2 separate regions of the Homo sapiens genome follow, and region 2 is linked to region 1. A link means that fine-mapping ties the variant in region 1 to the expression of a gene that starts in the linked region. Tissue or cell type: whole blood. Region 1 holds a variant in brackets; the other region holds the start of a gene. All regions are shown on one strand. Distances are from middle to middle.

Region 1 (5,648 bases):
GGATGCCTTGAGGTAAGTGGGAAGAATGCTAGGCTGGGGATTAGGTTTCCTATTTCCAGGCTCAACTTTGCTCTCAGAGTTTGGAGGACATTCTCTTTCTCGCATCTGTCTTATGTCCTGTGGGCTTAAAATAGAGCGATTTATTAGCCCAGCCCTTGCTAAGACCTAGGCATTCCCCAGGACTGACCATTTTCTTTGTAACCTGTCTGGTGTGGGGAGCTCTTCTTTCTCCAAGTCTGGCATTTTCTTCCTTGGCCTCCAAAATGGGGCTTTGGCAAAAGAGGCAGCACTTGCTGCCACCAGGTGAGCTCTGCAGAGCTGTCACTAAGCCAGGCCCTTCTCCAGCAGAGGACTCCTTCCCCAGCAAGAGTTCTACTCTGGCTCTGAGAAAAGGATACCGTACTGCATGTGCACTGCAGCCACCATGCCTTCCTGCAGGCTGTGAACCTTCTGTTAAAGCCAGCATGGGAATCCCATACCTTCTAGTCCTGTTCCATTTTCAGTACTTACCAAAGGAGCAAGAAGAGCTCAGGACCTTTCAGCTCTCCTTTACCCAGAGAGAGCTCTGTTCCCTTTTGGAAGACACACCTACCTTTGGCTTCAGATGTCCCCATGATGGAGAATCCCAGTTAGTACATGCACATACAATTCTGGGCCCAGGAAACAGGCCATTCCCCCAAAATCTAGTGAGGGCCCCTGTGTGTTCTGCTGTTCGCCTCTAAAGTGTGGCATTCAGTGCTAGAAAGTTGAGAGGCCGGTGCCCAGTTTTCCAAACAGTTCTTTTCCTGTCATGTGGTCTTTGGAGCCAGACAGACATAGGTTCTAATCTCTGCTCTGCCACAATGTTGCTTTGAGATCCTAGGCAAGTCTCTTTACCTCTCATTGTCTCCATTCCATCCTCTATAAGGTAAGTCACGCACAGTTATGTGACTTAAACAATATGGCTTAGCACAGTGTTTGGCACATATTAAGTACTTGATAAATGGGAGCTATCAGGATGCTGTATTTGGACATTTTCAATAGCACCTAGCATAAGCTGTCATATCTTGAAGGGATTTATAGGTGCATCTGTGACACCACACTGGATTCTGGCTTTCTGGAGGACAAAGATCCTATCTTTCATCCGTCTCCTGTTCTGCCTGGCATGAGTAAGGCACATAGCAGGCACTCAGTTGATGTTGGCTGAATCTTTTAGGATGACTTGGGCAGAGCAGGGTGGGCATAAATGCTTTAGTTTCTCCATCTGTGCCTGGGGAAATAGTAACCCCTTATTTTGGAGCCTTTGAGGACAATTTAAAACGATATGTGTGAAGTGTTTGGAGCCCTTTGAAAGGAGGGTACTGGAGAAATTAATGGTGTTTTTGCTGTTCTTGGGAAAGCCCTTTGTGGTTCCCAGTGAATAAATTACTTGGAGTGAGTTTTCTCACACCTCCTACTCTGCTCTGTTCACCGTAGCTTTTTTTTTTTTTTTTAAATAACTGTCTGCTGTAATACTTCTTTGCCCATGACTTATAAAGATATATATTTTTGGTGTTGGACTTTTGACCCCTTTCTGCTCCCAGGAGAGAAATTTTGATCAGAATAATAAAAGGTGTAAACTGTGTGTGTTGCCCCCTTTCCTAGGCCTTGGGCAGTTTAGCTGCTGGGGTTAGGAATCAGCTGGCTTGTGGTATGTGTATGGTTATGGGGCAAGTAGGAGATGATTCCTGTTAAGCGCTGAGCAGGCTTCTGTCTCCTGCTCTTCTTTTCATCCCTGTCCCATACCGTTTTGCTAAGATTCTTCAGATTTCAAATGAACCTTGTTGTCTTTGGCATTTTCGATAGGTGTTTGTGGCTATACTCCTTCTCCTTCAAAGACAGAAGGTGTTTATCGTCTCCTGTGCTTTAGGTCCCAAGGTGAGTTGGCTGCCAGAGAAGAGCCTCCCTCTAGAAGGACAGTGGGAGAACTGAAAAACACTCACCAATCTTGGAGCTACAAGAGTGGAGTTAGACTTAGTTCCACAATTAACCAGCAGGCTCCAATGCAGAGCCTGGACCAGGTTATTTCTAAGGGCCTTTCCTGCTTGAAAAAAAATCCATGAGATAAAAATTTTCCAGCCCAGGGTAGAATTTCCAAGAGTGAACACAGTTTGCAAAACTTTCTACTTTTCTCCAAGCCTCTCTTGCCCTGTAGCACTGGAAGAACTGGCTCCGTCCCTAATAGCCTCAGTTCAAAGGGACCAGAAGAGACTAGGGTAGTTGGGGACAAATGTGGGGTTCATAACGTACTAGGGGTATCTCGTCTGATGAAGTGGTTGGGTATGGATGTCAGAAGAATCTCACTTGGTGATGATCCTCAGGAACTATGTAAAGGAATTTTAGATTGCCCTGGCTGATGGCAGGAAGCCCCACCCAGGGCTAGCCCTAGCTGGTCAGAATTGCCAAGCAGTCAGTGTTTTTATTT[T/C]ATGCCATCTCCTAATCATTTCAGTGGCCGCCAAGCTCCTAGAAGCTTGACAGCCACAAAGATGATCCTAATTCAACCCTTTCCAAGTGAGGACACTCAGTCCTGGTCAGGAAAAAGGCTTGGTCAGTGTCATATAGTAGCGGTAGTAGCAGAGACTAAAACTCACTTCTCTTGATTGATTCTGTTGCTCTTTTCGTTACTTGATACTATCATCTTTGCTGTTCTCTAGAGCCACTACACACACCCTGCATTTTGTGTTGCTGGGAAAAGCCTCCAATCAAAGACCTCCTGATCCTTTTCTCTTAAGGTCAGCATTCCAGTGTCTAGCACAGTGCTTAGCACATGGTAAGCCTCCATCCAATATTGGTTGAATGGTGAATGAGTGAGTGAACTCACAGAGTCTATTCCTAACCCTATCTTCTTAGAATCAATTCTATACTTACACTGCAGTTTACCTGATTAAATTCATGCCAAATCGTTAAGGGTTGCCAACAGGATCTGTTTTAATGGTCCCAGATAACTCTTGCATTTTAACCAGAGTTTTCTGTAAATAGCGTCTTTGGAAAAAGCAGTGGTTGCAGTAGTAAGACATACAGGCACTGTGACGAGCTCTTGGGGTTGACTATGCCTCTCACTCCATGTCCTACCACAAGACTCTTTTCTCCTGTGGGCTTAACCCCTGCATTGGGTACCACCAGAGGGCAGTAGCTCCGCCAGGATCTGGGTGGGGCTATGTAAAAAAGTTCTGGAGGCTCTGAGGTCAGACCTAGGATACAGTAGAGACAGATGTTTCTTTCAGCTGCCCTGGGTGTGCCATGAGTATTTCTGGATCCATTGATGAGGCAGCTGTAACACTCTTTTCTCACTTTGTTTCCCCCAAAATGCTGAGTGAATGGCCCTGTGGGGTTGGTTGGAGCTGAAGGGGCCCAGCTAGAGTGGAGGGACTTGTTTTTCCATGTTCATTGTCCTCTCTTTAGCTGGTCTTTCTGAATGTCAGTGATCCTTGCCATCAATGTGACGTGCCTGGTTCTCAAAGGAGCAGGAGGAACTATAAGGAGCCCTTCTTTAAAACAACCACTATCAGGGCCTCAACTGTCCTACTGATGCTCAGATCCAGTCCTGACCTCTCACCTAAACTCACTGTCGGCTGCTTCTTCACTGGTCCTCCTGCCTCTTGACTCTCTTCATCTCAGATTCATTCTGCAAATCATTCAGCAGCCTGACTAATCATCCTAAACTCCCGGAGTTCGGGAATTGTCTCTTGTTTACTGCTGTAGCCTCAGCTCCTAAAACAGTGCTTGATGCCTGGGTAGTGCTGAATACATTTGATGAAGGCAATATTGAATGTATTTCCTCTAGATCCAGTAGCATTATTAATTTGTATGGTTTTATTAAGAATTGTTTCATTCATTTATTCAAGGAACATTTTTGTCTCTCGCCACATGCTAATCCCTGAATGTGGTTGGTAGATAATATACCAGAGATAAGTGATCTTACAGGGCTTACAATCTAGTTTATGCTGAGAAAGGAAGTTGAATCTTTCCTGGATTCACTTCCACACGAAACAGACGAACGAGAAAGATATGAGTTCACTTGCTTTTTTGTTTTGTGTTCACTGCAGGCTTCTTCCAGGAGTTATCCCAGGGCAGGGCTGAGTGTAATGGGAGGATGAGGCAGGAGAGTAGGTGAGCCCCAAGGTCCTGAGAGAAGCTTCAGAGACTTCCAGGCTCTCATCTCCAAGTGGGGGATTGGGTTGAGTTTATAACCTCCTTTCCAATGCAGTATCACAGAGTAGTTGAGAGTGCTCACATACTGAAGCCAGTTTGGACTCAAATCCTGCCCTAGCCATGTGACCTTGGGCAAGGTCTCTATGCCTGTTTCCTTTCTATGCCTCAGTTTTCTCTCCGTAAAATAGACATAACTGTAATACCCACCTTACATCGCTTGTAGCATTGTGAGGGATAAATGAGTTATCACATGTGAGGTTCTTTAAACAATGCCTGAGAGTGAAATAGATGTTTGCCACTACTAATTTACTTACTGTTAGGCATTTTCATCTGTTAATATGAAAAGGAAAAAGGAAAGGTGGTTTTGCATAGTTGTGATGGAAAAACTGAGGCTCAGAGTGATTAATCTTTCAGACTCACCAGGTGGGGAAACAGGGCTGTTGGGGCCCAAAATTTACTTAGATTTCAGTGCGTTTCCTAGGTCTGAGTTGGGACTTAAATACAGAACACCAAAGAGATCATCTCTTTAACATACAGCATTCTAACTGAGTTTGTCTCTTTCCTTTGGATAAAATACCTTTCTAAGAACATTTTACTGAGAAAAGAGGACAAAAGAGAATTACCCTATAAAGATGGAGTCACTCTCAGAACTCACAGGCTGTGTCAGTTCCATGCTTTTTTTTTTTTTTTTCCTTTTTTTGTGAGACAAAGTCTTGTTCTGTTGCCCCGGCTGGATTGCAGTGGCGTAATCTCACCTCACTGCAATCTTTGCCTCCTGGTTCAAGCAATTCTCCTGCCTCAGCCTCCCTAGTAGCTGGGACTACAGGCACCCACCACCATGCCCAGCTAATTTTTGTATTTTTAGTAAAGAAGGGGTTTCACCATGTTGGCCAGGCTGGTCTCAAACTCCTGACCTCAGGTGATCTGCCTGCCTTAACCTCCCAAAGTGGTGGGATTACAGAGGCATGAGCCACTGCACCCGGCTCTGTCAATTCCATTTTAAGGGATATCTGAACCTCACTCTTGGCCTCAACCTTGACCACCTCACTACTTAAGTAAGAATGATCATATGGCTTCTACCTGGGATCCAGGCTCAGCCATTCCCAGGATGCTTCTACAGGAATGTACAAACTATCCACTGAGTGGCAATTCTGTTTGAGCCTTAAAACAAACAAAAAAACTTGGACTAGGAGCCAGAAGACCTTGTCTCTGTGAACCTCTTGACCATTTATTAGCCAAGTGATAATTGGGTGAGTCACTTGACCTTTCTGAGCCTTTGCTTCCTCATGTCTTCAGCAGGGAACAGCCTCTTTCTCAGATAACCATTGGGTCAGTATTTTGGCAATTGTACAGCTCTGAACAGTGAGCAGTTAGGACACAGCAGTGAAAGACAAACATTCTGTGACCTGTGTGAAACAATGTAAATGTCTGCTTTACTGTTTTGAGCTTTAGACTTTGGTCTGACCCATTGTGCCCAG
Region 2 (5,648 bases), 81 kb before region 1:
TCGAGACCAGCCTGACCAACATGGAGAAACCCCGTCTCTACTAAAATATAATATTAGCTGGGCGTGGTGGCGCATGCCTGTAATCCCAGCTACTCAGGAGGCTGAGGCAGGAGAATCACTTGAACCCGGGAGGCAGAGGTTGCAGTGAGCCAAGATCACGCCATTGCGCTCCAGCCTGGGCAACAAGAGTGAAACTCCGTCTCAAAAAAAAAAAGAAAAGATCTATTGTATAACATGGTGACTATACCCACTATGAATATGTATTGTATTCTTGAAAATTGCTTAAAGAACATATTTTAAACATTTCCAGCACAAAAATATGAGGTAATGCATATATTAATTAGCTTGACTTAGCCATTTCACAATGTATACATATTTTAAAACATCCTGGCCGGGGGCACGGTGGCTCACTCTTGTAATCCCAGCACTTTCGGAGGCCGATGTGGGTGGATCACCTGAGGTTAGGAGTTTGAGACCGTCCTAGCCGAAATGGCAAAACCCCGTCTCTACTGAAAACACAAAAATTAGCCAGGCGTGGTGGTGCGCATCTGTAATCCCAGCTACTTGGGAGTCTGAGGCAGGAGAATCGCTTGACTTGGGAGGTGGAGGTTGCAGTGAGCCGAGATTGAGCCACTGCACTCCAGCCTGGGCGACAAGAGTGAAACTCTGTCTCAAAAAAAAAAAAAAAAAGAAAAAAGAAAACATCCTGTTGTACACAATATATATTTTTTGTCAATTAATAAAAATCAATAAATTTAATTAAAAAAATAGTCGAGTGAAGTTATTTCCCATGACTAGCTCCTCTTCTTCCTTTAGATTTCATCTTACATGTCACTTTCTTGGAGAGGCCTTACCAACCTAACCAAAGTAGCTCCCCAGTTTTAATTTTTTTCACTGGGTTCCTATGCCTCCCCCACCAGTCTAAGAACTCCATGAAGCCAGTATGTCTTGTGTTCAGCACATAGGGAAGACTCAATAGGTCTTTGTTGACTGAATGAAATGAAAGAAGTCCTTCAACATCCTGCCCCTCTGCTCCCTCAACCCCCAAAGCACCAGTACTTTGTCTTCTCTTCTCTTGGGATGTAATGGAAGAGGAGTCTTCTACCAAGGCCGTTCTCTGCCACTTTCCTCAAGAAGCTCCTTGCCTCTTTGATTGATTCTCCTGTATACTCTTTTTTTTTTTTTTTTTTTGAGACGGAGTCTCGCTTTGTCACCCAGGCTGGAGTTCAGTGCCCCAGTCTCAGCTCACTGCAACCTCTGCCTCCCGGGTTCAAGCGATTCCCTGCCTCAGCCTCCCAAGTAGCTGGGATTACAGGCACACGCCACCATGCCCGGCTAATTTTTTTCGTATTTTCAGTAGAGACGGGGTTTCACCATATTGGTCAGGCTGGTCTTGAACTCCTGACCTCAGGCAATCCACCTGCCTCGGCCTCCCAAAGTGTTGGGATTACAGGCATGAGCCACCGGGCACGGCCCTGTATACTCTTCACTAATCTTTTCCTATCAATATGCAAAGATGTTTCCCTTAAACAACCAACCAACCACAAATCCCAAAAGTTTCTTCCTCTACCAGGCTTCAGATCGGCACATGACCGCCTTCTTGCCTTGACTTTCAGGAGTCTGGTATCCCCCGTATTCTTTTATCTTAGCCTCCTTCTCTGGCTTTTTTTTTTTTTTTTTTTTTTTTTTTTTTGAGACAGAGTCCAGTCCTGCTCTGTCGCCCAGGCTGGAGTGCAGTGGCGCGATCTCGGCTCACTGCAACCTCTGCCTTCAGAGTAGCTGGGATTACAGGCACACACCAACATGCCCGGCTACTTTCTTTGTATTTTTAGTTAGGGACGGGGTTTTGCCATGTTGGCCAGGCTAGTCTCGAACTCCTGATCTCAGGTGATCCGCCCGCCTCGGCCTCCCAAAGTGCTGGGATTACAGGCGTGAGCCACCGCGCCCGGTCTTCTGGCTCTTTCTAAAGATTGGGATTTCCTAAAGTCCTGTTCTTTTCAACCTCCATTGAAAAGTGTTGGGGTGGAGTTTGGGAAGGAGGGGCTGAGGAGTGAGGCTGGGTTAGGTGGGGAATAAAGAGAGGGATATGAGAAGCCCCGAGGTCTGGGGTCAAGGAGACAGGCGTGGGGGAAGGATTTGAACCACTGTTACGTGTAGTGGGGGAGACAGCAGGGAGAGCGTGCCCGGGCACGACAGCCTGGTGCACAGCCGAGAAAACAACAGCGCGTGCGCGTAGCGACCTCTTTGCGCCTGCGCCCCCCTTGCCAGTCTTTCGCCGGCAAAAGGAGGACGTAGAAAAGGGGACACCGGAAACTCACTCTTCACCCGGAAATGGTTATTGAGGAACATGGCGTTGCTGGTGCGAGTCCTTGTGAGTGAAGGAGTAATTTTCTACGGTAGCTCTCTGGGTCCCGGGTTGGAGTTCGACAAGGCAGGGCGGGAGGAATTGGAAGGAATCGCAGGAGGGAAGCCTGTGTTATAGCTAGGCTGAGTGGCCGCTTTTCCGTGGGGAAACTGAGGCAGCTTCCGACCTCTTCCTACCCCGTTTTGACCTTAGCTCCCCCATCTTTCGAGAAGGGGAAGACTGACATCTGGCCTTTATTTGATGGGGTTTACTTTTCCTTCCCTCCCCCATGTACCTGCTTCCCCTCAGGGAGAGGAGCATGTAGGACACTGATTGGAGTTTCAGGAGGCCTGGGTTCTAGTCCCTGACTGTCACTGATGCATAGTGACTTTAAGCAAGTCACTTTTGGGCCTCATTGACCCTATGTGAAAAACGAGGACATTTATCTCCTGCAGTCCCTTTAGATTCTGAGATTCTCAGGGTTTCTTTCATAGGTAATAAGTCAGTTCTTAACTGTACAGTTAAGTGGAATATAGATTATTAGATTGAAAGCTGCGTGAGAATTGGAGTCATGTCTGTCTCCGTCGTTTTCACTTTGCCTAGCATGGTGTCTGGCACATCATAGGTGTTAAATGATTACTTGTTGAATAAATGAATGAAGTAAGGAAAGACTACCAGACTCTTTAGCACCCGTGTGTGAAACTACTGCACCTCTTGAGATTTAGTCCTGACCCTTCTAGCATACTCTTTTCTCTAGCAATTAAAGGAGAAAAGAAAGTGGCAGCAGAAAAAACGTTAGGATACAGAGCTTAGTTTTTAATCATGGAGGGATGGGAGAGTGTATAGTTTTAGCGAGTCTTCAAAAACTGGGTCAAAGACACTGTTTTTCATAGTAGACATGGTCTATTCCTGTGTCTAGGTAACTTCTGAATTGTTATTTTACATTTGTGTTTTTGATCTTTTTATATATGTCTTACAAGGACGACAGTTTTACTTCTTGTATTCCTTGCCAGCCTAGCAGAGTGAGGTACCCTCGACTGCTGTTCAGTAAATATTTATTTGTAGAGTAGCCCCTGTAACTGCCAGAAAGATTCACCTGGTGAAGTGATTGTTTGATTTCAGGCCAGAAATTGATTCAGAAATGAGGACTGCTGGGGAAATGGCAATTAGAATGTTCTGAATTTAGTGGTTTTTTTTTTTTTTTTTTTTTTAATCCTTCCCCTGCCACCCTTTAGGGTTTTGTTTTTTTTTTTTTTTTTTTTGAGGCAGAGTCTTGCTCTGTCGCCGAAGCTGGAGTGCAGTGGTGCCATCTCGGGCTCACTGCAACTTCTGCTCCCGGGTTCAAGCAATTCTCCTGTGCCAGCCTCCCGAGTAGCTGGGATGACAGGCATGCACCACACCACACCTGACTAATTTTTGTATTTTTTTTTTTTTTGAGATGGAGTCTCGCTCTGTCACCCAGGGTGGAGTTCAGCGGTGTGATCTCGGCTCACTGCAACCTCTGCCTCCTGGGTTCAAGCAGTTCTCCTGCTTCAGCCTCCCAAGTAGCTGGGATTACAGGCGCCTGCCACCACACCTGGCTAACTTTTGTATTTTTAGTAGAGATGGAGTTTCACCATGTTGGCCAGACTGGTCTCGAACTCCTGACCTCATGATCCGCCTCCTGCGGCCTCCCAAAGTGCTGGGATAACAGGCATGAGCCACCGAGCCTGGCCTGACAACTATCATTTTATAGGGCACTTACTACGTGCTAAGCACTTTAAAATACTTACCTAATCCTTATAACATCCCTTTGGAAAGGAGGGCGTGTTATTTCCTCTATTTTACAGATAAGAAAACTGAACCACAGAGAGGTATTCCTGGCCAGGTGCCGTGGCTCACACCTGTAATCCCAGCACATTGGGAGGCTGAGGTAGGTGGATCACTTGAGGCCAGGAGTTCAAGACCAGCCTGGCCAACGTGGTGAAACCCTGTCTCTACTAAAAATACAAAAATTAGCCAGGCCTGGTGGTGGGCGCCTGTAATCCCAGCTACTCGTGAGGCTGAGACACGAGAATTGCTTCAACCCAGGAGGCGGAGGTTGCAGTGAGCTGAGATTGTGCCACTGCAGTCCAGCCTGGGTGAAAGAGTGAAACTCTGTCTGAAAAAAAAAAAGAAGTATTCCTGAAACATTCTTGTTAGTCTTGCTTTATTTTTTCCTCTTTTTGTCTTGTCAGCCAATATTTTCCCTTCTCCAGTGATGGTTTTGGGAAGGAGGAGGAAACTAAAACACTGCTATTGTTGAATGACTACAGCAGAGAGCCTGGACATTTGATCAGTGGAACTGGACATGCTTATGGTTTTTATGAGTTGTCCTGGGCATTGCTGATCATTTCTGCTTTTCTTTGGAAATAGTAAAAATTGCAGAAAGCCACCCTGTACTTTAGAAAATTAAAAAAAAGTTGTGGTAAAATACATGTAACAAAATTTACCTTTTAAACTTTTTTTTTTTTTTCTGAGACGGAGTTTTGCTCTTGTTGCGCAAGCTGGAGTGCAATGGCGTGATCTTGGCTCACTGCAACCTCTGCCTCCCGGGTTCAAGCGATTCTCCTGCCTCAGCCTCCTGAGTAGCTGGGATTACAGGCACGTGCCACTACGTTCAGCTAATTTTTTGTATTTTTAGTAGAAATGGGGTTTCACCATTTTAGCCAGGCTGATCTTGAATTCCTGACCTCAGGTGATCTGCCCGCCTTGGCCTCCCAAAGTGCTGGGATTACAGGCATGAGCCACTGTGCTTGGCCACCTTTGAAACTTTTTAAGTGTACAGTTCTGTGGTATTGAGTGCATTTACATTGTTGTGCCATCTTTACCACCCTTATCCACAGAATTATTTTCATTTTATAAAACTGAAACTCTGAACCTATTAATAACTCTCTATAGTCTTTTCTCCCCAGCCCCTGGCAGCCACCATTCTACTTTCTGTCTCCGTGAGTTTAACTACTTTGTGTACCTCATATAAGTGGAATCATACAGTATTTGACCTTTTGTGACTGGCTTATTTCATTTAGCGTAATGTCCTCAAGATTCATCCATGTTGTAGCATGTGTCAGAATTTTCTCTTTTTTTTTTTTTGGAGATAGGGTCTCGCTCTGTCATGCGTGCTGAAGTGTAGTGGCTCAATCATAGCTCACTGCAGCCTTGACCTCCTGGGCTCAAGTGATCCTCCCACTTCAGCCTCCTGAGTAGCTGGGACCACAGGCATGTGCCACCACGCCTGGCTACTTTTTTTTTTCTTTTTTGTAGAGATGGGGTCTCCTTATGTTGC

The links. PIP is the estimated chance that this variant, and not a neighbour inherited with it, causes the effect.
Region 2: it holds the start of UQCC1, and the variant in region 1 is fine-mapped to the expression of UQCC1 in whole blood (TOPMed, PIP 0.90).

Annotation. Positions count from the first base shown.
Region 1 is chr20:35,327,225-35,332,872 of GRCh38, reverse strand. All of the region lies in intron 7 of UQCC1 (ubiquinol-cytochrome c reductase complex assembly factor 1), which reads left to right. Among named protein-coding and RNA genes, the nearest start is that of FAM83C, 38 kb to the right of the region's middle. The variant T/C (reference allele first, on the strand shown) is at 2,444.
Region 2 is chr20:35,408,663-35,414,310 of GRCh38, reverse strand. It overlaps UQCC1 (ubiquinol-cytochrome c reductase complex assembly factor 1), which reads left to right and starts at 2,338. Exons shown (of 10, transcript NM_018244.5): 1 at 2,338-2,371. The coding sequence starts at 2,348. RefSeq lists enhancers at 2,103-2,152, 1,360-2,182, 2,283-2,432, 2,493-2,592, 2,183-3,006.